3 separate regions of the Homo sapiens genome follow, and regions 1 and 2 are each linked to region 3. Evidence: fine-mapped QTL for protein levels in blood plasma. A gene starts in region 3. Each other region holds a variant in brackets. All regions are shown on one strand. Distances are from middle to middle.

Region 1 (8,000 bases), 47 kb after region 3:
AAATGTAGGGGAAAAACAAAAGTTGTTTGCTTTGTGTCTAAAAGTTCCATGGTGTCACACCTAGAAACCCTCGGTGTTGGAGACTGGTGCTTCATACTCCATTGTCAGCAACTTTGCAGAAAGTGTTGTACTAAAGCTACTACAGTGAGCAAGCTTATGCCCTTCAGCGTTGTCTCAAATTTTGTTTTTAAGTCCAGGCGTAAAGATAACATGTGATAATGACCTCTCCATTTATTTGGAGTCACAGATTTGATACTGGAGGATCTCAAAGCATTAGGTCAAAATAATTAGCTCTGTCTGTAGAATAATCAACTCCCTCTCTGCCTGGATGCAACAGATTTGTAACCTTGTTTTAAAAGCTAGGCGTTTCCATTGGTACAAGTCAGCGTGTTTAGGTGTGGAGAGAGTTGGCAGCCTGCAGGGAGGGGTGGCTGTTTCCCAGAAGTCACAATTCCTGGTGGAGAGAGGAAGCTGTCTACTCAGTTTCCCTCCTGTGCTTTGTGAATGGTGACCGCCCCTTCTCCCAGCCTCTCCAGCCTTCCTCAAGGTGGGGCAAAATCAGCCCCCTGCAGCAAAGTCCCTTTCCTTCCTTCCTGTGGAGACCTGGAATTTTTCAGTGCTTTCACTACTGAACATTTCTGAAATCTTTTTTTTTCTGATGTCAAGCAACAGTGTCATGTATGTAAATTATAGAAAATTTAGAAAGAATAGACTATTGCAGTAAAGGAAACCATGCACAATCCTCTTACTCATGGAAAACATCTATTACTATATTGTATGTACTCTTGGAGTGGTTTTTAAAATTTTTCTTTAAAACTTTTTTTGGCATATACGTAGTTTTTTGTTGTTGTTGTTGTTGTTTTGTTTTGTTTTAATGATCCATGCATTTGATGTATTTGAGACCTGTAAATGCCACTTTGATCTTTATCTGGTTGTGTTAGAGAGTATGTCGGACAGAGGATAAGAGCATGCCTTTAGTTGTGTGGGCCATTTATTTATTTGAAATCTGGAATGTAGCCTATTTGGTGATGGCACAGGAGGGCATGGAACCCAGAAGCCAAGGCTAAAAAATGTATAGAAGTGGCATCAGAGGATGGGGAAATGGTGTCAGGGAAGCAGCACAGGACCTAGAATCAGAAAAGCCAGTTTCTGCTCCTGCTGGCTGGGTAATCTCCCTGAAACTCAGTTTCCTAATCTGGGAAAAAGGAGAACTCCTACCTTACCAGTTGTATTGATGATTCAGTTAATTAAATGAGGTACTGTTTAGGAAAATGCTTTCTAAACAAGCACTGCAAGACTCAGATAATAATATTATAATGAAAAAGTTGTTCAGACTTGGCTGTGGTGATTCAAAGGGAATAAGATTAAGGTGAGCAGTTGGTGGCTGGGATTTATAGTCTTATGTCCATGAGCAGAGAAAACGTTGAATTGGCTGCTCGAATTTTGTTGTTATTGCTGTTGCTGATGCATCTAATGGTTAATATACACTTCCTGTTTAAATGGTTACCGAGCCTGGATTATTACTAGGGAGGCAGCGTAGCAAGGCTAGTATTTGCTATTTTATGCTGGTCACCCTGTCTTCTTGAGTCTGTGTATTTTTTACTCAATGAGTACATTCTCCCACAATGCTAATATGTTTGCTCTTTCACCTAAGAGACGCTTATCAGACTTTTACTATGGATTACAGGCCTTTGTATCAGGAATCTTGCTGCATTTACACAAGAGAGAATGAGACAGGCATAACTCTATGTTTTAAACAACAGATAAGGTTTGTCTGCTGTGTGCACAGAGAAGGAAGGGGAGGGGAAACGGCGGGGTTGGGGGTGGTTAGGTAGGGGTGGGGCCTGGGAAAGATGTATAAACACTTTTAACTTGTGAAAGAATGTCTTTGTCTCTGCTCATGAGCCTCAGAAATTGGCGAAATATTAAAAGGAGGGGTTTGCAGGGCAGCTTGTGAGCTCTGGAGTCAGATTGCCTTGGACTCCACCCTGCTCCGACAGTTCCTTAGCCATGTGACAGATAAGTTCCCTCATCTCTTTGTTCCTCAATTTCCTCTTCTGTAAAATGGTAATAATAATACAATGAACCTCATCGGGCTATTGTGAGATAAATATAAACCGCTGATATCTTCAGAACTGATCCAGGCCAATGTTATGTTGAATCCTTAAGAAGGATTTGAGAAGGTGGCCCTGAGGAAGCACAGACACACGCTCTTGCCCCATTGTCTGTAACTGCCCAGTGTCGGGCAGACCCCGGTGGACCTCCCCGGTTGCTGGGGCTGGGGCCTCCATACTCAGCTGTAAATGACCAGGTGACAATGAGAGTGGACTCTCAGTGGGCCTCACCACAGGAGCCTCTGTCATATGGGGCTGAATCATTGTCCTGTATCTGGAGATTGTGAAGGTCTGTCCAGGGCATCTTTTGAGGAACTGTATCTATTTCAGCTACCTCTTTAGTTTTCTATTTCTCTTTTTCTCTCCCCTTCTTCTTAATATTTTCTGATGAGAGACTCGGCAGGTGAATATGTGCACGTGGACATTAATCAGAGGCACTTGTCATTCTGAAGAGGCCTCAAGAGCCGAACAGGGTTATTAATAAGAATCCTCTAAACCAAGAGAACATGGAGCATGTTGAATTTATCCAATTTCCACAACGTTCTAGTTTATTCCTATGTTGTTGTAAGGACAAAGTAGTAGATTCAGATTCTTTTTTTTCCTTTAGACAGAGTCTCACTCTGTTGCCCAGGATGGAGTGCAGTGGCGCGATCTCGGCTCACTGCAAGCTCCGCCCGGGTTCACGCCATTCTCCTGCCTTAGCCTCCTGAGTAGCTGGGACTACAGGTGCCTACCACCACGCCCGGCTTAATTTTTTTTTTGTATTTTTAGTAGAGACGGGGGTAGATTCAGATTTTAATACTGCTCATTTTAAACGTGTTTGTGTGTCAATTTTTTTTTTTTTTTTTTTTTTTTTTTTTTTTTTTTTTTTTTTTGAGGCCGAGTCTGGCTATATTGCCCAGGCTGGAATGCAATGGCGCGATCTCGATCTCGGCCCACTGCAACCTCTGCCTCCCGGGTTCGAGCAATTCTCCTGCCTCAGCCTCCCGAGTAGCTGGGATTATAGGCCCTCGCCACTGCGCCTGGCTAATTTTTGTATTTCTAGTAGAGAGCGGGTTTCACCAAGTTGGCTAGGCTGGTCTGGAACTCCTGACCTCAAGAGACCCGCCCACCTCGGCCTCCCAAAGTGCTGGGATTACAGGCGTGAACCGCTGCACCCAGCCATGAATTTTTTTTTTTTTTTTTACACTAGATTGTGTTGTTTCCTGAGCACACAGGAGAAAGGTGGAGACCTTTGAGACGTGTATATCAGGCTCATGACCTTCGAGGGACACATGTATCCTGCCTGCAACCTTCGAGGCACACGTGTATTGTGGCTGTGACCTGGAATTACACTGCCTTACTTCAAATCCTGACACTGTCACTTATTAGCCAAATTTACTCAAGCAACTGCTTAACTGTATATGCCCCAGTTTCCGTAGCTTAAAATGGGGATAATGTGTTTCCTTATTCATAAGTGTCTTATATATTTAGTATGATTATGTATATAAAGTGCCGGAATTACACTGCCTTGCTTCAAATCCTGACACTGTCACTTATTAGCCATATTTACTCAAGCAACTGCTTAACTGTATATGCCCCAGTTTCCTTAGCTTAAAATGGGAATAATGTGTTTCCTTATTCATAAGAGTGTCTTATATATTTAGTATGATTATGTATATAAAGTGCTGAGCCATAATTCTTCAATAAATATTAGTTATAATTATTTTTGAAATGTGATAAACCTCAATTGGACTCCTGCTTTGGCTATGTAACCAGTTGGACCTTTGCTAAACCTCAATTTTTTTTATCTAGAAAATAAAATGGGAAACACAGTATCTAATAGAGAGTTATAAAAGAATTATACATTATTTCTATCACTCTGGAGACACAGTCCCTAAAAGTACTTGGTAGACCCTTTCCTATCCTCCCAGCTTCTTTTCTTGGCAACGTTTTATTTTTTTTCAGAGAATCTCAGTTCTTCCCTGTAAGGGATATAGGCTCCAACTTTGTTTCCTGGAGAGGACTCAGGTAGTGGTGTATTGAGTGCTGGTGCCAAGTACTTTGTGGGCAGTTTCTTATTATTATTCCTCACTTAATATCAACCCCATTTTGCTGAGGAAGCCACAGCTGAGAGTTAAGAGCCACATCTCGCCTGCTCTCTCAAGTGGCAGCAACATCATTCAATGTGTTTGTCTGACTGTCGAGCCTGTGTCTAACCACTGAGTCGTTCGTCCTCCATCAGATCAAACCTGGGAAAGGCGTGACAGTGAGCATCCTCACTGCCGGAACTAATGGCACGGAATCAAGGACATATCTCTCTCTCTTTCCCTCATCTTTTTTAACCGAAAGGAAATTTACGGAGCATATGGTAACTCGTTTTCCTCCACAGCTCTACTATCCAGACCACGAGTCAGAAAATTAACCTTTTAACTTAATCTACATGTTGTGCATTGAGTCTCACGCCTGTTTTCATCTGCCTAAATGGGGAGTTCCA[C/T]GCAGCGTGATGGGTGTCCTCTCTGTGCTCACATTGCCGGGGACAGATGATTTGCAGCTGCTCTGTCCTGAGGCCATTGTGAACACTGAGGTCCCTGACAGGTTGGTCTAGTCTGCATCGTCAATTTTTATCACATTCTTTTATGAAATAGAAATTTCTATCATGGGCATGTAATTTGGTGAGCATTGCAAATAGTAAACTCTTTCAAAAGGCTATAAAATTACATATTTATAGATTTATAAAAATTGCCTCTTTTTTTCTCTCTCCAGCACTCCTTCCAGGTAAATAAGACAATAGGATACTTTTGAGAACTTAGGAGTTATAAAAATATAATTGTTACTTGGAAAACTTCATTTTAAATCTCTGAATTGGGAAACACATACCTTAAGTATGAGCATGTCCATTTTAATTCATGAGCAGTAGCCGTGCCGTAGCCATCACATCAAGCTTTTGGGTGCTAATAAGCATCAATTGTGTGGCAACTAATCCAGCTGGTGTTTAGTAATGTAAATGGAGACGTGAGATGTTTTTATATGTTGTATCTTCCCAGGTTAAGTCAAGCCGTTAAAGCATATTTGCACCTTATGTAGATGATTAAGCATTTGGTAAATTCTGAAAGGTCACTAAGTACAATGTACTTCCTTGTCTTCCCCAATTTGCCTTTTCATTTGACATAGGCTTTGTTAGGAAATTACAGCCGCTTTTCCCAGGTGACATTCATCCCCATGTAACACTGATTGTAAGTCTAACTAGGTGGGTTCTAATGACTTCTACTAAGATGTAACATGGACCAACCACTGCCTACATCCTCATTCTCATTCTCATTTCAGCAAAAAGTCCTGAAAAGATAGGCAAACACTGGAGGAACCATAGAGACGTGTCATTTACCACTTTCCCTCTTGACTGTATATAGGTGATTATGCTTTCTCAAGTTTCACTTGTTCTTTCTTTTACCCCGAAGCCTAGCATTAAAGGGTGCTCAGGCAGTACCTGATGGGTTGGATACTGGTGCTAAGAAGTGGAGTTAGCATCCGGCAGGAGAGGAGGCAGCACACGGACGTGGCTGGACATCTTTGCTCTGGAGTTTTCTCTTGGCATCTGACTTCTGCTCCGCTACTTCATGAACTTTGCATTGCCCTCTGCAAGTCCAGCATGATTTGGGTGCCTCAGTTTTCTCCATTGGAATATATGTCATTTTTTTCCTCTCCTTCAGAACGTTTCTCACCACAAGGCATTTTATATATATATTTGTTTTGCTTTGTTTGTTTCTTTCCACTCCCCTCTTTTTCCATCAATTTAACAAAAGGGGTTTGAATTTATCCCAGCACCTAGGACATACCAGGTGCTCAAAAAATATTCTACTGAGGGCCGGGCACGGTGGCTCATGCCTGTAATCCCAGCACTTTGGGAGGCTGTCATTTGAGTTCAGGAGTTTGAGACCAGCCTGACCAACATGATGAAACCTTGTCTCTCTTAAAAATGCAAAAAATATTAGCCAGGCATGGTGGCACACGTCTGTAATCTCAGCTACCCAGAAGGCTGAAGCAGGAGAATTTCTGGAACCTCAGAGATGGAGGTTGCAGTGAGCCGGGATCACACCACTGCACTCCAGCCTGGGTGACAGAGGGAGGCTCTGTCTCAAAAAAAGTTACTAAAAAATATTCTGGCCAGGCACGGTGGCTCATGCTTGTAATCTCAACAATTTGGGAGGCCGACATGGGCAGATCACCTGAGGTTGGGAGTTCAAGACCAGCCTGACCAACATGGAGAAACCCCATCTCTACTAAAAATACAAAATTAGCTGGGCGTGGTGGCACATGCTTGTAATCCCAGCTACTCGGGAGGCTGAGGCAGGAGAATTGCTTGAACTTGGGAGGCGGAGGTTGTGGTGAGCCGAGATCGTGCCATTGCACTCCAGCCTGGGCAACAAGAGGGAAACTGCGTCTCAAAAAAAAAAAATTATTGACTAAATATATTAGTTAGCCAATTAAAAATAGCCCCTACTTCTTAGCGTTGTTGGGGGTATCAAAGGAATTAATGAAAGTGCACATAGAGAGCCCCAGTAACTACTTGCTATTCTTATTACCCAACTGATCGCCAGTGTTCTCTTTTGTAAGTGAGGAAGGTATATTGGAAGTACTGGGGTTTTCAAATGCTGCATAAGGACAGACAGTTTAAAAAAATCTTTTGGCTGGGCGTGGTGGCTCACACCTGTAATCCCAGCACTTTGGGAGGCCGACGCAGGCGGATCACCTGAGGTCAGGAATTCGAGACCAATTCGAGACCAGCCTGGCGAACATGGTGAAACCCCGTCAAAAATTAGGTGGATGGTGGCACGCACCTGTAATCCCAGCTACTCATGAGGCTGAGGCAAAAGAATCACTTGAACCTGGGAGGCAGAGGTTGGGTTGCAGTGAGCCGAGATTGCACCACTGCACTCCAGCCTGGGCAACTGAGGGAGACTCCGTCTCAAAAAAATAATAATAATAATAATAATAATAATAATAATAATAATAGGATTTTATTTTTATTGTTGCCTTTGATTTATGGCAAGTTGCTTTTGACATATCAAGAACATAATTGAACTCTCAGAAGGTAAAACTCATAAAAATGAAGCATAAGTAAATGAAGTGTGGGAAACCTTGTTTGAAACACATTTTGGGGTGAGAGTGGGAATTTATTAGGTAAGCCAGTTCGGTTTCAGAGACACCAGTTTCACTTAGTGTTCAAATCCCTGTAATAATGAGTGGTGTCGTGTCAAGAATCTGTTACCGTATATCATTTATAGGTTGGTCATTGAACAGGTGTTTTTAGCTAAGTTTTGATTAATTGTGCCTTTATGCACTGGACCAATCCTACAGCTTAACTTCGTCTTTGTCACTTCCCTGTGCAGTTCTCAAAGAATTCAAACGTGTGATATTGACAATCCAAGACTCTTTTTCCAAGCCTCATTTTCCTTGATACCCTATCTGATGGCTGGAAATTCTGCTTTCTCTTGGGTTTCTTCATGCACCTTCCCCGTTCTTCAACGATGAATGTAGCATTATCTGTAACACTGGGCCTCAAATTTATCTGGTGCCTCACATGTATGGGCATAACTGGCAATGTCTATATCAAGGGAAAATGGTGAGAATTAAATGAGAATGCATATTTGAAGTGCCTGGCCTAGTCCCAGGCAGTGCTCAGTAAATGCTAGTTCCCTTTTGCTCTGTATTTCCGGCCTATTTTGGGTTTTTTGTTTATTTGTTTTTTTGTTTGTTTGTTTTTAATTTATTGAGATGGAGTCTTGCTCTGTCACCCAGGCTGGAATGCAGTGGCACAATCTTGGCTCACTGCAACGTCTGCCACCTGGGTTCAAGCGATTCTCATGCCTCAGCCTCCCGAGTAGCTGGGACTACAGGCGTGTGCCA
Region 2 (8,000 bases), 83 kb after region 3:
GCAGCTTTCAAGACATTTTATACTAGGAGAGCTCAGAGCTAATGAGGGCAGATTTCCTAAGATCTATGACCAGAGGTCCTGATTTGAAAAAACTTTCTCCAGGTTTACGTTATCAAGAAATTGAAACAGCCAAGTTCCAAACAACAAACATCACTTACTTTGTCTCTACATTTGCCTTTTCTAATTGAATTTAGTGCGCTGCTGTATTTCCTCCCAGAAAGTGTATTGTTTTAAAATTACCATTTCAGTTCTATTACTCAAAGCCCTCGCTGCTAATGCTTTCTGACAGTTATCAACATAATGAGCCATAATGAAATGATGAGCAATCTTCGGTGGAAACCCAATGTCGATTCGACCGGTGCTGTGTGACTGTGTTGTGAAAATTTGAATGCAAATTAAAATAACATCGTCCTTACTTGTTTCCAAGGTCAGGAGAAGGGAGGGACTCTTTTCCTTTTTTATTTTTTTATTTTTTATTTTTTTAAGGGCTTTAATTTTGGGAATCTCACATCCATTTTCAAACAAGCTCTTGAAGGTGCCCCTGTTATTCTGTTCAATTCTCTACCCCAAAGATTTACATGCTTAGCAGTCTGGCTAAGGGATTTGGGGAGGGATGTCTAGAGCGAGGCTTTGATGTATAAACCATAGGATAAAATGCAGCCTTCAGTTTCAAGTAAACTATATATTTTTTTATCTACCCGAAAGCATATTTCTTTTTGCTTTAGAGCTGCAAGTAACTAATCATATAATGATGGGGGAGGCATACATTCTGTGAAATAGGTCAGTGAGGGTGCAGTTAGCTCTAGTGAAAGACTAGTTAGAAAAGTGAGAACAAAGGCCAAAGATTCCCAAAGTGTCGTAAATGAAAGTGTTTCAGAAGATTCATTGGTTGATCTCTAGCCATTTTATCATTCATGCAATCAATCATTTTCGTGAACATATTTTTATGAAAAATCTCAAATCCAAGTTTTCCAGGGGAATTTCTCATTCCATGTCATTTATCAAATTTGCAATGTAATAGTATAGTTTCATACTGCATTCCATTTGTCATAGGACAAAAACTCAGATTGAGACACCAACTCCTCCACTGCCAGATTACATAGTTGGTTTTTAGTTCAGAACATATGGTCCTGCTGCCTGTTAGTTGGTAAGCCAGCTAATGTGTCTGTCCCATGGACTGTACAAACTGATCAAAGCAACCAAAGACATTTGGACGATTCAGATGCAGCCGTCAACGTATGCTGCTGCTTCAGTTAGAGCTTAGTAGTTCAACATCTGATGTTAGCTAGTGAGTATACCACATTTTTGTTTCTTCCTTTCGGATTGCCTTTCAGCATTTTAGCTACTAAAAGGAAAAAGTACCTCTAGACAACCAAGTGGATGGTTTTTGTTTGAAGAAAATTAAAGATAAAGGGAGAAAGATCACCAGGTGAGCTTCAACGAAGGCACTAGATAGACCCCAGACTGATCATTTGCCATTTGGTTGTTTGCAAAATTTTAAGAGCCTCATGATATTTCATAAAGATCAGGTATCATCTCACTGAATTCTTTTTAAAAAAATGCTGTTTTAGCTTCCTCTTTTTTTTCCCCACATACTCCCCATTTTATAGTCATAAACAGCCCATTATGGATTCCACTGGAAAATGCAAAGATTCGAGGGACACTAATATATGCCCAAGTGGAAGGCTTGAATAATCTGCCAATGCCATTTAGCCAGGTTATTACAATTTTTCTACCACCCTGAATAATTAAGAGTGGCTTGTCATTGACCGAGTCCTGTCATTTCTGGATGCCATTTTTGACACTATGCATGGAAGTCATACAGTGGTTATTCACAGCATGCTTCTATGAAACAAGGTTAATTACACATTTTTCTGAGATCCCCTGGGGTGAGAACGGGGTATCTTCTTTTTTTCTTTTTTTAAGACAGAGTCTCACTCTGTCTCCCAGTGGTGCAATCTCAGCTCACTGCAACTTCCACCTCCCAGCTCAAGCAGTTCTCCCACCTCAGCCTCCCAGGGTGCTAGGATTACAGAAACGAGCCACCACACTCAGCCCAGGGTATCTTCTTTGCTATCAACATTTAGATTTATGAGAGATTCTGCTATAGAGATATAATTGCCCCTCGCCCTATTCCTATGATCTTCCACCTAGAAAAAGAACCTTTAATAGAAACTCCTAGCCACTCTCTTGCACAGAAGGTAGGAACAAGGCAGAAAAGATAATCCCCATGAAAATGATAAAAGAGGATCATCTGGGAAGTAGTACTAGCTAGCCATCATCATCATGAAGGGCAGGGAAGTGAGGTGAAATTGAACTCTGGGGTGAACTGAGAAAGTTGGAAACTTTCTATCCAATTCTCAAAAAGAATTTGTAATTATGGGTTATTATTTTCTTTATATTATTTGTATCTCTATGAAAGGGAAGCAGGGTTGTTTAGCCTTGGAGTCAGGGTTTCTGATCACAGCTTTGCGCATGTTGGCTGTCTTAATTTTGGCAATTTGCTTAACTTATCTTAGTTTTTGGCGATCAGATTGTTGTGAACAATAAATACTTTTCTGTCAGATTTGATTGCAGCTGTTAAATAAGATACAAAAAAGTGCTTTGCAAGGAAAGTAAATTAATGCACAGGCTAGATAATTTTAAAAATGAAATACTCAATTCTACTTTTCTTGGTCTTTGGCGTGGTAGCTTTCTTGTGTATAACTGAGAATTTATAAGGCACTTCAGCCATAAACAAGTCATCCTAATAAAAAGAAACCAAACCCCTAATTAACCCAGTAAAAAAAAGACAAAGATCACTGGAGAGGAGAATGGGAAAGGAGATAGAACCAGAAAAATAGGTTATGGGAAAGTCTCACAACAAGAAATGAACCTCTATAGGAAGCCAAGAATTTTTCATGACAGCAGCAAGTGATTGATGCATCCAAAAGGTTCTGGTTTAATCATGGACAGCCCTGCTTGGCTGTCTTTGTTGTAAAAACACATAAACCACCATGATAAGAGGTTATGCACTGTTCATATATGTCAGGAGGGATGTCTTTAAAACAGCCATCTTTATGTAAACTAACCCACAGCAGATAGGACTGGGAGAAAGCAATTAGTGGTGGCAACATATACAAATGTCAGGGGAAGCATGGGCTTTATTTCAGAGTCAAAACGTAATGCATCC[C/G]AACTGTTGACTCTTCCTTATAACCTGTCTTTCAGCTGGAGAGAGATTAACAACAAAGGCTTATCTGAAGGGTTGAAGGGTTTTACAGCTAAGACGCTGAAGTGCTATTGACAGTCCAAAAGTTGTACATGATTAATGAAGCCTTAGGAAATGGAACTACAGACCCAAGGTGCTGCTTCCTCCAAGATATGTGTTGGACTGGTTGCCTTAGCATTTTAGTGAGGTGACAGCAGTGCTTAAATACATCGATCATGGGAGAGTTACCTTTCTGCCCATGCTCTTGGGGGATGCTCCATTTCCCATCCAGAATGAATTTCATAGCCCAGGCATTGAATTTTAAAATGGCGATTAAAAATCAGTTAAGTATTAGATGTCTGTGATAGCTCTGGAAACTACTCTATCACATGAGACCAGAGACTTTGGTTTTTCTATCAACTGTCTTCTTGCCTTGGTTGCAGACTTGATTTTCTTTCTTTCTTTTCTTTTTTTTTTTTTACATTTTAGCATGTGATTGCCATTTTTTCTCTCTTTATTATTATTATTATTATTTTGCTTAGCTTTTGTGACATACAAAAGTGCTATGGCAGTGGGTTTTTTTTTTTTTTTTTGAGACAGGGTCTCAATTCATCACTCAGGCTAGAGTACAGTGGCATGATCCCAGCTTATTGCAACCTCCACCTGCCAGGTTCAAGCAATCCTCCCACCTCAGCTTCCCAAGTAGCTGGGACTACAGGAACATGCCACTACACCTGGCTAATTTTTATAATTTTTGCAGGGACAGGGTTTCACCATGTTTCCCAGGCTGATCTTGAACTCTTAGGCTTGTCAAGCCTTCCACCTACCATGGCCTCCCAAAGTTCTGGGATTACAGTCATGAGCCACTGTGCTCAGCCATAGTGCTATGGTAGTGATGCTTCTGATTAGTGAGCTGGACTGGGCTAAAGCATCATCATTCATTCATTTGTTCATTTAGCAGATATTTATTGAGTTTCTACCAGATGTCAGGCATTACTCTGAAGGCTGTAGATATTCTCATAAACCTGAAAAAGAGAAGATTCCTTTTCTCCTGGAGCTTATGTTCTAATGGGAATATAAACAAACAAATGAATAAGATAATTGAAGGTTCTCCTAAGAAGGAAATTTTTAAAAATGTGATGCAATTGGGTGCATTGGGACAGGGAAAGGGAGGATTTCAGTTTGTATGGAGTAGTCAGGAATGAGAACTATTCCAGGGATAAGAAGTCAGTCAGTCAAAGGGCCGGGAGTGAGAATTCCAAGCAGAACTACCAGCTCCAAGGTATTTTGAGTTGCATGTGCAAAATTTTGCTAACAATGTGAGTTTTAAAGTTGACTTACTTTTTTCCACAGTTTTGCATTCTGTTGGCACTTTAATTCCAGTCGTTACGAGAAATAGAACTTTTAGGTTTATATGGCACGTTACACCGTATATCCACATATATTTAAGCCCTTTGGCAGAACCCATTTCTGCCAAACCCATTTCAAAACGCAATTATCATAGCAGGTTTTCATCTTTTACTGAAGTTTCAGTTGCTTCCTGTAAGAATAAAGAAATGCATTTTCTCTGACTTTGGGTGTGAGGTAGAGTACATAGGGTACCTGGACTTTCCATGGAATGGTTTATACCAAACTTATAGACACACTGGAGACATTTCTGACTTTAGGTTTAGTGTTGGCTGACGGCTTTTAAATGACATTATTAAGGCTCACACAGATTTCATGTGGATATGTAAATACTGGCTTGTCCTAAAGGGGCTACTTTAAATCTTGACATAAGCCAGCAACTGTGTTCTCTAAACTACTCAAGAATTAAATTTTAGTCTAATCCATGGGAGGAAAGAATTAAGATATGTGGAATTACTGGAATTTTCTTTTATGCTTGGAATATTGCCGTTCTTAAATGTCACATTGACAGTATGTGGTTCATTTCCAGAAGCTTGTTTTTTTCCCCAGAGAAGAGCACATGGTTGGTAAAGGAAGATCAAGATTCCTTTTATAATACAACATGATATGATGTGATATTTTATAATATGATATGATAGCCCTTTGTATCTACTATCATGTGGCTATAGTTTCTTTGGGGCTTAATGCTGTCAAACTCCTGTCAACTGAATGTGAGGTGACATCCCACTAGAAAATAATAATTACCCATTGTAGCACCTTTCTCTGGTACTTGCTGTGTGATGCAGAAAGTATTTCACACCAGTGAAGTGAATGGATGTTCATTAAATGTATCTATAATGGCAAGAAATTCAGTGCCCGTTTCTTTCAGAGCAATGAGAAACTCAAGAAATAAGCCATATGTCTCATTTTATTCCCTCCTTAGTCAATAAAGGTAGGTCTAACTTGGACTTTAGCAGCCAGAGTTGTCACCTGGGCTATATACATAGGTTAATCAGGGGTTCCTGGACTGAGCTTTTTAGATAGGCTTTTTAGTTCCTGGAATTACATGCAGAATTCTGAGGGTGCCAGAGAGCATCTTCCTAAAAAGAAGATGCCTTGCTTTCATCATATTTTCAATAGCACGAAATGGTCTGAAGGTCAATTTTAACGGCCACCTATTTTTGCAAATAAGTTTTCTTGGAGCACAGCCATGATCATTTGTTAAGGTATTGTCTATGGCTTCTTTGGAGATAGAATTACAGAGTTGAGTAGTTGCTGCAGGGAGCAGATGGCCCATAAAGCCTAAAATATTTATTTTCTGGCCAGATCATAAAATTTCTTTACAGAGAAATTATGCCGGCCCCTGTGCAAAAGATTTATAAACTAAAGATTATTGCATTTGACTTCTATTTCTGGGATTACCATTAATATCTGGGCCACTAAGTTATATTACAAATGTAAAGGGCATACTAAATATGAAAACTTTAAAATAGTTGAACATGCTATTTTCATTTTTGGGTGCAGGCACAGAGAGAATCCTGGGCTTATATGTGAATTTCATGGGAAATTTACAAATACAACCAAAAACGTGAAGGAAGGGTGTTTATGTTCCCTTAAATACACCTCAGCATTTGATTAATTTATATGAGGTTGGTACAAAAGTAGTTGCCATTAAAAGTAATGACAAAAACCACCATTACTTTTGTACCAATCTAATATTTTAGAATGTCTTGATTTGGGTGAAAAAATTAAAATTAAAGGCAAAAGCTGTTGTTCCATAAAGACTAATATGGAAAATACCTGTCTACCTTTAGAAATGTTAAAATTAAGCTTCTTCAGAGATAAAGTTTTCCCCAGAGATAAAGCTTTCATGTCTGAGTAAATCACCTCCTGAAATCAAGGTGGAGGAAGAAAAGTGTAATAACCAATCCCAATTTGATAAAACCTTATTTGATAGAACCCACATTTCAAATTCCCAGCCGTCGCTGGTTACACAGCTGTAAAAACAGGACAAGGCAGGTGCTTGCTCTGACATCCACTGCACATATAATCCCTATTTAGTTTCCTTGAGTCTCTGCCTTTTTCCCTAGGTTCCCTATCCATTCCTGCAACTATCTAGGCAACTATCAGGAAGTTATCAAAATGAATAAGAATATTTTTCCTCTCTCCTCTAAAGCAGGTGATAAACACTAGATACACCATAAATGTTTTTTGAATAAATGAATGATTCACAATCTCTCCCAGCAGAAGTAACCACTAATATTTTATATATAGCCCTTTCTACTTTTTCCAAAGTAATTCTAAACCATGAAAAAAAGAGGCAATTGAAACAAACTAGTTACACTGAGTTACTACTTCACAGGTATAAAGCTAATGAATCTGTATGTGAAAAGTTGACTAGTACAGCTTTGGCTCGGAGAAGGCTGCATAGTTCACACACTTCATAACACTGGGTATAAGATGCATTAAAGGACTTCATTAGTTTTTAATTCATTCATTCATTGACTTATCAAACATTTTTTGAAATTTCTGAACGAGGAACCATGGTAGAAAACAGGAAGTGATAAAGACATCAATTATTATTATTATTATTATTATTATTATTATTATTATTATTTTGAGACAGAGTCTCACTCTGTTACCCAGGCTGGAGTGCAATGGCGCGATCTCAGCTCACTGCAACCTCCGCCTCCCAGGTTCAAGAGATTCTCCTGCCTCAGCCTCCCAAGTAGCTGGGACTACAGACGTGTGCCAGCACACCTGGCTAATTTTTTTTTATGTATTTTTAGTAGAGACGGGGGTTTCACCATATTGGCCAGGCTGGTCTTAAACTCCTGACCTCAGGTGATCCACTTTGGCCTCCCAAAGTGCTGGGATTATAGGCGTGAGCCACTGTGCCCGGCCAAGACATCAATTCTTGAGGAGCACATATACTGGTGATAGAAACAGACATGGAATGGTGTCTAAGTAGCAAGACACCATTATATGTTACAAACAAAGCAGGAAAGGAAATAAGGAACTGAAATGTCAAACAATGACATAAGCATAAGGACTGGTGTTATGCCAGTCCTGTATTGAGGCTAGTAGTGGGTAGTTTTGAAAACAAAATCTTGCCATTCACAATGACCCTCAAGCTACCCGATGGGTGTATGTACTCAGTAGGTCGATTCAGATGTGGAGACTAGAAAATTAGAACAAGTACAACAGTTAGCCCTTTTTTGTTATAAACCTCATATTTGTAATTGGAGACTTACTCGCAGGTGGACATATTTCTGATGACAAAGGCAATCACTCTGTCAGAAATTTAATTGCTTCTAAATAGCCAGACACAATACTTACATAAATGAAAGAGAAAATAATCGGAGTTAGGTTTTTTACTTCTGGATGCCTTGTATTTATTAAAAGAGAGCTCAGATTACTCAGAATA
Region 3 (10,416 bases):
GATGTTTTACTTTAACTCATTTTCTCAATGCAGCCAAAAAGAGATGCAAATTATCTCCTCTAATTTCTCCTCCAGAAGGACACATTGTCTCTGCAAAATGTTCCTGAGAGGGATCTAGAGTTATTACAGAACTGAACTGAGCATCTTGGCACATGCCTTCTCTGTCTCTCCTCCTCCTTCTTGGGCCCCTGGTGGTGGAAAGGTCCCTGATGGTTTCTGGCCCCCACAACCCTGTGCGGTGGATATCACATATGGTCATGACTAGGAAGAAATCTCTTTATTTATTGTTTTTTTTTGAGACGGAGTCTCACTCTGTCGCTAGGTTGGAGGGCGGTGGCTCGATCTTGGCTCACTGCAATCTCCGCCTCCCGAGTTCAAGCGATTCTCCTGCCTCAGCCTCCCAAGTAGCTGGGATTACAGGCGCCCGCCACCTTGCCCAGCTAATTTTTGTATTTTTAGTAGAGACGGGGTCTCACCATGTTGGCCAGGATGGTCTTGATCTCCTGACCTCTTCCTCATGTGGGATTTGGTACATTGTAGACACTGAAGAAATGTTTGTTAGAACCGAGTAAAATTCACGGACGGCATCAAATGAAGTTTTAGAAAAGCCTTGCTCCCTTGAGAACTGCAACCTTCCTGTCTGCCCCTCCTCACCTCAGTGATGCAAAAGAGATTATTATTCTAAGTGAAGTAACTCAGGAATGGAACACCAAACATCCTAAGTTCTCACTGATATGTGGGAACTAAGCTATGAGGATGCAAAGGCATAAGAATAATACAGTGGACTTTGGGGACTTGGGGGGAAGATGGGAGGGGGCAAAGGATAAAAGACAACAAATACGGTGCAATGTATACTGCTCGGGTGATGGGGGCACCACGATCTCACAAATCTCCACTGAAGAACTTACTCATGTAGCTAAATACCACCTATACCCCAACAACTTATTAAAAAAATGAAACAAACAAACAAAAAAAGGCCTCTTGCTTTGTCTTGCTCTCTCATCCTCTTGATGCATGAAGACCTGAGCTCTGCAGCCATTTTTTTTCCCACTCAGGTGTAAAGGGCTCATAAGTGTCCTGCTTCTTATTTGCATAACAAACAGCATCAAAGCCTTGACATCAAAGGATGAACTCTGCAGTTAGGTTTCCTGGGGGCTTCCGGAAGCCCACCAATTGTTGTGTCAAATTTGTATATTTAAGATGCAGTAGCTTGTGGTAGAAGCGTTTTCTAACAACGGTGGGAATTTCATTAGGTAGAGCTTTGGTTATTCATTACCACTTGGTTGTGGGACTCTGGATTCCTCACACCTTCTTTCACGTATTTTTTACACTATTCTATTTGAAGACAAGCATAGCCTCTAGGTCCAAATCCAGTGGAATTACCTAGGAATATAAAAGTTGGATGTCAGCTGTCATAAATCAACAATAAAAGAAGAGAAGAATTTAGAATTTATTTCCCTTCCCTACTCTAGGAGTTAATAAAATAAAGCATCTTATTTTCTCATGGAGCACGAAAGGTAAATCACAGTGCTTGGTTTCCTTCTGGAAGGAACAATTCAAGCTGAACAAATGATTTCTCATTTCAAAATGTGAATGCTTATTAATTAAATATTATTTTACAGAAACAATAGCCAGGCATGGTGGCTCATGACTATAATCCCAGCATTTTAGGAGGATGAGGCAGGAGGATTGCTTGAGCCCAGGATTTTGAGACCAGCCTGGGCAACATGGTGAAACCCCATCTTTACTAAAAATACAAAAAATTAGCCAGGTGTGGTGGCACACATCTGTAGTTCTAGGTATCCAGGAGGCTGAGGTGAGAGTATCACGTGAGCCTGGGGAGGGTGAGGCTGTGGTGAGCCATGATCACACCACTGCAATCCAGCCTGGGTGACCTGAGTGAGACCCTGTCTCATAAAATAAAAATAAAAATAAAAATGAGTAATAACAGCTGGCTAACACACGCCAGGTACTATACCAGAAGCTCTATAACATTCATTCAGTATTTAGAAGAACCATATAATGTTAACTATCTACAATTTGTAGATGAGAAAACCATATCTCAGAGAGGTCAAGGAACTTAAAGACACACAGCTAGAAAAAGCCCAGCTAAAGTATCAAATTGGGGTTGTCTGAATTGAAAGTTCTGGTTCTCTAAAAGAGAACTCAGGGAGTCATTGGAGCACTATGGGCAGGTTCCATTTTTTTCACAAAAAATCCACCAGGATGCCTAGAAAAAGCAGAGTGGATTCATCTTCTTATTCTCTCTGTCTCTCCAGTCTTTCATACACCCTCCTTATCATTATTTGTCTACGGGTCAAAGGCTCCTTTCTCTTTACTTTGGTGAAATTGGCCCTCCACATACAGGTGGAAACCCCGGGATGCTTGGTGCTATTTACAAACGTCTTTTACGGATTAAAAACACCTTTGGAATTCAATCTTAATTCAATTCAGCATTTACAAGGTACTTCGTAGCTCAAACGTTTGTGGTAGGCACTGTATAAAAAAAAGTATATCATTGTTTTCAGATTATTCAATTACTATTTTCATTAAGTGTGTAAGCAGATATGTTTTGACATGTTTCTTAGTGTATTCAAAATAACCCCAAATTTTTACTGTAGTAAGACTTGTCTTACTCAAGAGTAAAGCAATTTTATTTTAAAATTAGGTGATTTTAGGTACTTTTTTAAAGGTATGATATTCCATTGTATCCTTATGACTCCGTTGATGTGTTGTAAACAGTCTCCAACATTTGAAAACTCCAGGTTGTCTTCCCATAATGTGGGTGGTTTTCTGCATTGATGGTGGCCTTTGTCCACCATCATTTTTAAAATTTTGCCTTACTCTTCAAGGAATCATATCTGCTAGGTTAGAACACCTTTGTTCTAGGTAGTCACAATGGACAGAGGAATTTTCAGCAGCTCATTTCTGTTCTGCAACCCAGAAATGATTTAAAGAGGAAGTTATAGTTCAGTTTTTCCAAGTTAGCATTTCCTGCTTCTTGGTTCTCCTGATTATCGGGCTGCCTTGGGTCCTGAACTAAAACATAGGAAGAAAAAAGGGAAAGTCAGTGAATGTACTCTAGCAAATGATGCCTTGCTTTCAGGCAGCTGTGTCTGGAAAGACTTTGTTTAATATTCAATGTGCATATCCTGGGGAAAAAAATGGTACATGTTTTAGAAATTTTACTGTTTATAACAATGCAGGCAGTCAGTTTCCCGTTTCAAACACAGATAGATACATGCAACACTCAAGATCCTGCAGAGAGGCAGCCAGCATCTATTGTTTAAAAAGGTTTCAAAAAGAATTCGGATTGCTCTTTTCTCTTTTGAATCTGTGTGCCAAATGACAGGGACCAATATTCGTCTTCTTTTTCTGTAAAACTCAGAAAGACACATGAAAGAACCCAGAAATGCATTTCTTAAAGGGATTTAGTGCAGTTATTTTAAATAATTTATGCACGCACACACACATACATATATCCCCCGAGTACATATTTTTTCCCTTTTTACTTGTGTGCAATCAGTAGCTACAATGACTGAAATCCACTTCTTTGGACTGTGACATTTAAGCAAATCTTGTATCTAGAAACCGAAATGCCCAGAGTCTCGCACAAGCTGTTCGTCTGGGCCACCAACTCACACAGCCGCCGCCCAGCGCCTCGGCACGCGTGCTCATCTTGTGTAAAAGTAAAAGTTGCTCATGTCATTAGCTCGGCTCTGAGTTTGCATGAGAAACCAGCGCAGCTCTCGAGCCACGGGAGAAAACACGATCTGCTGCGGAGCCCAGTGACCTGAAACTGTAGCAGTGACTCGAGACCTGTCCTCTCCTCGACGTCGCCCTATAACCCTCCCGCTTTATTTAGGATCCGCTTTTCCGAGAGCAGCCACTCAGGCAACCCCCGGAAGGTTTGTTAGGAGTTTCTCCTTGAAACGCTTTCCGATTCCATCTTTTGAAATCCAGCAGGCGAGAGTCACGACAGACTCCAGGACCTCTTGAGCGCTGTCCGCAGCCCCACGGTAGGAGTAGCCCTAGTGCACGAGACTTGGCGGTGGCTGAAAAGCTCGCCCAAACGCACGCACCACCTCTCTGCGGGGTTGCGGATTGCGGGTTGCGGTCTTTGTCCGCTCGCCCTTCCTCCGGGGCCGCACACTCCCGCATCTGGCCGGCAGGTGGCGCGGTTGGCTCACGATGAGCTGCGGCCGGGGCTGGAGAGGCTCCTCCACCTCCCAGCGGCCGCCCGGCCGCCGGGACCCAGGCTCCCCAGGAAAACTCGGCCCTGCTCTGGAGGGAGTCAGAGGAGGGGCGGCCTGGGAAGGGGAAGGGAGGCCTCATTGCTAGGAATCAGTGCCCCTGCCAGCGCCTGGGGAAATGCACCGAGTGGCGTTGGGGACCGGTCCCTGGGACACCGGCTGCGCTGCCTTCGCCGGACCGCTCTTAGGTGGCCGCGTCCACGGCTCGGGCATCGGGAAAAGACCACAGCCCGATGGTGCCAGTGCCCCCGGGGCCGGAGCAGCCGGGCGGGGCTCTGCGGGTCCTCCTGCTCGCCGTCTTCTCCCGGGGCAGGGAGGGCTGCCCCGGCTAGGTCGGAGCGGAGAGTCGCAGCAGCCGCTCCGGGCAGCTTCCCAGTCCCGGTCTGCCTTGTCTGTGCGGCTGCAAGTCCCCGCACCCACACTTAAGCCTTTCACTTCTACCCCACCGCTCCCAGACGGGCTAGGCCCGGTTCCAGGGACTGCCCCCAACCCTGCCCCCGGGAAATCCACAACTGGTTCCCTGCCCAAGGCCATCTCGGGGCGTCCTGGGCCCTGGGCGAGGTCCACGGCGTGTGCAGGGGGACGGGGCCAGCGGGGACTTCCTTACTGCTAGAAAGTCATTCGTTCAGTCTCTGGAGACAGTGACGGAGCCCTGCTGCGGACTGGACGTTGGGGACCAAGTAGGTCCCCGCTCTCCAGGCATCTGGGGAGCCAGGGAAGAAGCGAGTGATAGAGCCACAAAACTCCCCGCAAAGAGTATTTCAGAGGGGGAAGCGCCATAAAGACAAAACAGGGCAAGGTGGCAGAGGGTGGCGGTGGCAGGCGCGAGTCTGCAGCTCAGCCCGGGCGCGCTGGACGCAGACACGTCGACTCTCCTAAAGAAGCAACCGCAGGTCAGCTTAGACTTCTTTTATTTCAATAAAAGAGCGTTTTCCTCCATCTTAAACCGCCCGTGGTGGGAGAAAAGGTTTCCAACCTCTTCTCTGGCTCCCCTCGGTCAATTCCGAGCTTTTCCAAAGTCCCTCCGCCGTCCAGGGGCTCGACCTTCGAGGTAACGTGGGGGATCCCGCTGGCTCCCTCCGGCAGGCGGGGGCGGGGACCGGCCGTGCTCGCCCCCTAGAGCCCCGGGAGACCGCGCGCCCCGTGGAGCCCGGAGGGGGCGGAACCCTGGGGCGGGCCCTGCTCGGTGAAGGCGGGGCTCGGCCGCCCTGTCTGCGCCGCCATTGGCCGCGGGCCCCGGACTGGCGGGCTCACGTCACCGGCCGGGCCCGCCCCCTTGGCAATGTCTTCAGCCCGCTGCTCTCCTAACTTAAGCATTTATTCCACTGGGATAGAAGCGGCAGGAGCAGCGTTGGCACCGGCGAACCATGGCTGGGATTTTCTATTTCGCCCTATTTTCGTGTCTCTTCGGGATTTGCGACGCTGTCACAGGTTCCAGGGTATACCCCGCGAATGAAGGTAAGAGCGGGACGGCCTTTCTGTGGTCGGGGACAGCGAGGGGCCATCGCGGGTGAGGGGTCCTCAGGAGCGCAGGGCCAGGTGGTGCGGGGGGAGCCCAGTGTGAATGGTGCGTCCCGATTCGGGAGAAGGGGGCTGAGGCGAGGGGATCGGCGAAGGGGCAGCGGGGAACCGCCGGACAGCCTGCCCCGAGGCGGTGACCCGTGCACGCGGCGGGTCTGTCCAAGTTTGTAACCAAAGGCCAAAGTTTATCAGCATCCGCCAGAGAGGCCCGCTCGAGGCGCCCTGAGGGGATGCACGGGAGACAACGCCGGGATTTAAAAAAAAAATTACAAGAACCACGTCCTCTCCTGAGCCAGCCCGGGGCGAGGGGAAAACGCAGCCTGGAGCACAGTGAAGGCTTGGTGCTCCCGGATTCTAGCGAAAGCCTTTCGAGCTCTGGTTTCTGCAAAGTTTCCCGAGCCCTGCGCTTCTCGGGACCGGGCTGCGGGGCCTGCTCCGCAGCGCAGCGGTCGTGGCGCCGCTCGTCAGGCGCCAGTGACCTGATTTCTAGCACCCGGAGTCAGACACCTTTCTCCTCGCCAAGCCCAGCGCCCCGAGGGTGCGATTGCGGGCCTGAGGGGCCCGAGCTCTTCGCCCCGCAGACTTGGGGAACCCGCCGGCAAGTTGAACGCAGTCGAGTTTTAGCTTTTCGCCCCAGAATTGCACACAGTTTAGAGCTAACGTGCGGGGTCGACGGGACCCGTCTGGGTGCTCAGTTTTCTGTGCATCCGTTCGGACGTGCTGGGAGGATTGTATGTGCCTGTGTGTCTGTGTCGGGAGGTGGGGCGGGGCGGGGGGGCGGTGATCATTTAGTTTCTGAGAAACCCAGGGAGAGGCGAACTGTGTGTGTGTGTGTGTGTATGTGTGGTGTGTGTGTGCATGTCTGCGTGTGTGTGCATGTCTGCATGTGTGGTGTGTGTGCATGTCTGCGTGTGTGTGCATGTCTGCGTGTGTGTGCCTGTGTGTGTGCGCGCGCGTGCAACTGCGTGTATGTAGGTGCGCGAATGCCTGCGTGGAAGCGGACGCGGAGGATTGTATGTCTGTGCGCAGATGTCCTGAGTGTGTGCGCGTGTGTTCGAGTGTATGCTCGTGCTCTGTTCCAGCGTATGCTGGTGCTCTGGCCTGCGTGCATCTAGTCTCACATCCGTCTCTCATTCTTCTCCTTTCCGGCATCCATCTATCTATCCGTCCGTCCATCCGTCTATCTATCCATCCATGCATCCATCCATCTCTCCGTGCATCCGTCCGTCCGTCCATGCATCCATCCATAATGCATCCATCCATATATCTGTCCGTCCGTCCGTCCATCCATCCCTCCATCCATCCACCCATTCATCTATCCATCCATCCACCCATCCATCCATCCATTCATCTTTCCATCTCTCCAGACATCCGTCCATCCATCCCTGTGTAATCTATCGTTTTCTCTGTTCCGAAGGAGGGAGCCAAAAACCAACTTAGCCTTGGCTGGGCAGCCGGTACCCGGAGCCCTCCAGACGGAGGCTCTGAGAGATTTATACACCTGCCCACAGACATCGCTTGGGAGGAAAGGGGCCCTCTCTCGCCCTCTGGATCTCCCATCTCCTTCCGACGTGGCTTCTGGTGGTTCTGGTGCCATCTCGGCCGTCGCCGCCCCTCGGTCCCTAGGGTTATTCATTCCCCTGAGAGGAATCGTGGATCCCGCGTTCTCCTGGCCACTTCACACACTTGTTAGGACGTCCCCTGAGACCTCTCTCGCCCCAGATGTAGAGACTGTTTTCTTTCTTTTTTTTAAACCCCCTCTTTTTTTGGGGGGGGGGGAGAAAAACTTGGGAGCCCAAGACAAAAAGGCTCTGAGAGCCCTAGGCTAATGTTGAAGGGGAGGGAGGGAGGTCTGTTCCCCTCCCCTCCCCCACCTCCCCCTTAAAAATTAATTCACTTTGTTGCTTTCTATTCCCATCACGTTTCCTTTTCTCTCTTTTACCCTCCCTTTCTACTCCCTCCTTTTTTTGTAAATTGGGTCTTATTGTTTCCTTTGTGTCCCTAATCCACCTTACATAAATCCAAATGGATGTAGCGGGCTTTTCTCTAGGGACAGAGAGAAGAGAATGGTTGCGGTGGGGGTTGGCGGTGGGGAGAGGAGAGGAGGGAAGGGGGCGGGAACTCCAGGCGGGAGCGACCCAGGGAAGGCTCTACATTTTAAAATCATTAACAGACCCCAGGAATTCAGACTCCCCGGGAAAAGTAGGGGAAAGAGACTGATTTTTAACTCCATTGACTTTGAGGTGAAATGAGAGGGAAAGTGGGCAGAATCCAGGGGTCTGGGGGTAAGCTTGAGTGTTGGGGTGCGCATGAGCACGGATGGCGGCTTCCCATTCCCACCCCTCCCCCAGCCTGAAGAGCCAGCCTGGCTGATCAAATTAATAACCCAGTGGTTCCTTTGAGGTGGGCCTTTCGACCCCCAGGACTGCAGATCTCGGTGGGAAAGAGAGGTTTTGAATTCATTGCGTCCCTTTGGATGTTCCCCTTACCTAGCGCTCTTCTAGCCTGAGCGGGGTACCGCAGCTCGGTGGGCTGTCCTCCCTTCCCCCCAAGCTTTGACGCACTCAGGTGTAGCACAAGCACACTAAAGCCGTTAGGCAGCACTCCATACCTAAAATTCAAGCCAGTGATTTCCTACGGGTGGAAGACGAGTCTCTGATTGTCCCCCAACACATCTTGAGAAAGAGAGAATACTTTCGGTACGTTTGCATTCTGATTCTGCACGTCTGGCATTCCCTCTTTCTGAAACTTTGATATTTAAAAAAGCAGCGGATACCATATTCAGGGACTATTTACTTGGTTGTGGAAGGGAAAATGTTAGGGAGAGCCTTTTCCTGACCCTTTGGATAGGATACTCTCTGATAGAAGAGAGAATTCACTTGTGGCTCTGTCACCCTGATGAGTTATGTGGTCATCTGAAACTTGCAAAAACAAATAATTCTAGTAGATACCAGACAGAGATGAATGCAGATTTTGCTCTGGAGTGTAACTGCTCTACATAGATGTATTTATCTTTTTGAATTGTACTTCAGATTCTCTATTCATCCTTTTTAGAAAAATGAATCAAGTGAGTCCTAGGATGGAATTTTAAATGTTAAGCAAGTTGAATAAATAAGAACCTGCAGATTTAAAGAGGGGGAGAAGATCAAATGAGTAATGATTATTTACATAAGTGAGCCCAAGTTTAGGTTTTGATCAGTGTTGGATATGCACAGCCTCAGCACATATGGAAACGCTCAGGCAAATGGTTTTTGTGTTATTGGCTTTTTGCAATTGGAAATTCATCTATTTTTCTTTTGTTTTTTGCAGTTACCTTATTGGATTCCAGATCTGTTCAGGGAGAACTTGGGTGGATAGCAAGCCCTCTGGAAGGAGGGGTAAGTCCTGAGTTGCTCTCTGATCCAAAGGGTAAAAAAGGAGTGATTAGCAACTTTCTGAGAGTCCTAATGGCTTGATTCTTGTTGATTGTGGTGAGGGGGTCAGATTTCCGCTGTGGCCTATGAAGTGAATTACGCTTTGTTGGAGAAATCCTATACTCCCTTTGGATAACTCTGTCATGGAAGAACTAGAAACCAAAAGGGCAGAAAGGGGTTTCAAAATTAGGAGACTGGTGGAGGCACAGACTTAGATGCCTATTTAAAACTAAAATACCAACAGGAAATATGATCCGGGGACCAAATTAGAATTTATGCCTATTACTGTGATGGCCATGAAGTCCTGACAAGGTTAATTTAAGAGCAATTGTCCTGCTTCCAGATGAAAAAAAAAGAATAAATAAAGATATGAGAGAGAAGACATTTCTAATTGTACCTGCATGAACTGCAGGAAGGCTCTGTACCTTGCTCTCACTCTTAAATCAGCTGCTGTTCTTTTGCACACTGAGAGACAGTCATGTGAACTTGTGTCCAAAAAACCCTAAGCCTGTGTATTAATGGTGCTAAATATGAAAAGTTTATGTGTCTGTAATCTTGAAGAATCTTTGGGGATTGAGTAGTCTGGATTATAAGGTCTGAAAAAAGCATCACTTCATTTATTCTCAAATTTGTAATACTTGTCATTACTGCCTCCATCTTACTAGGTCAACGGCCACATTCTCCTACTCCCCCTAAATAACCAGTCAGAATGAATCAGCTTTGGAAAGAAAACAGTACAACATGTAACTGACTTCTGCCAAACTGAAATAACTCTCAAATCCTTTTAAAATTAAACAAATCATCCTACCTTCACAGGCTTGATAGTTTATGGCTGAGTCCATTGATTAAAAACAATGGGGGTGAAAGATTAGGAGTTTTTACTAGGCAAAAATTGTAATGCTAGAACCTGGCGTGGGCTCCACACCGGTCCATTGAATAAAGAATGAAGGATTTTAAATTAAAGATTCATAGAGTCTGCTATCAAGGACATATTTCAGAACTAAGACTAAGCAAGAAAATAATCATGAAAATGGAGAATTTTAGGCTGTCTTGTTGCAAACAGATTTTGTAATCCACCTGAAATAAAACAGATTGCCCTGTCTTCCTATTTTTTCTGCCTGAACTTGACTGCCATTGGTTTGTTCTCTCCTGAAAAATTCCAGTCTGCCCTTAAAACCATCTTTTTAAAGGAGGGAGGAGTGATTGGCAGGCCTCTGGCAGTGTAGACA

Direction of the effects. Alleles are on the strand shown, and positions count from the first base shown. The strength of an association depends on the size of the effect and on how common the allele is. Not every link is listed here.
For the plasma level of the protein whose gene starts at base 5,565 in region 3, allele C in region 1 goes with a lower level than allele T (moderate association).

The links. A credible set is the group of variants that fine-mapping cannot tell apart. PIP is the posterior inclusion probability: the model's chance that the variant is causal. The UK Biobank Pharma Proteomics Project read protein levels with antibody pairs (Olink). The fine-mapping took linkage between variants from a reference panel, not from the people measured, so its PIPs are less certain.
Region 1: its variant is the best candidate, but not a certain one, in a credible set for the plasma level of the EPHA4 protein (UK Biobank, PIP 0.61).
Region 2: its variant is the best candidate, but not a certain one, in a credible set for the plasma level of the EPHA4 protein (UK Biobank, PIP 0.71).

The regions. Positions count from the first base shown.
Region 1 is chr2:221,521,842-221,529,841 of GRCh38, reverse strand. All of the region lies in intron 3 of EPHA4 (EPH receptor A4), which reads left to right. Among named protein-coding and RNA genes, the nearest start is that of EPHA4, 46 kb to the left of the region's middle. RefSeq lists an enhancer at 2,226-2,726. The variant C/T (reference allele first, on the strand shown) is at 4,591.
Region 2 is chr2:221,485,926-221,493,925 of GRCh38, reverse strand. All of the region lies in intron 4 of EPHA4 (EPH receptor A4), which reads left to right. Among named protein-coding and RNA genes, the nearest start is that of EPHA4, 82 kb to the left of the region's middle. The variant C/G (reference allele first, on the strand shown) is at 3,173.
Region 3 is chr2:221,567,453-221,577,868 of GRCh38, reverse strand. EPHA4 (EPH receptor A4) reads left to right here and starts at 5,565. Exons shown (of 18, transcript NM_004438.5): 1 at 5,565-5,711; 2 at 9,084-9,151. The coding sequence starts at 5,621. RefSeq lists an enhancer at 884-1,396 and silencers at 4,100-4,259, 4,310-4,589, 5,190-5,609.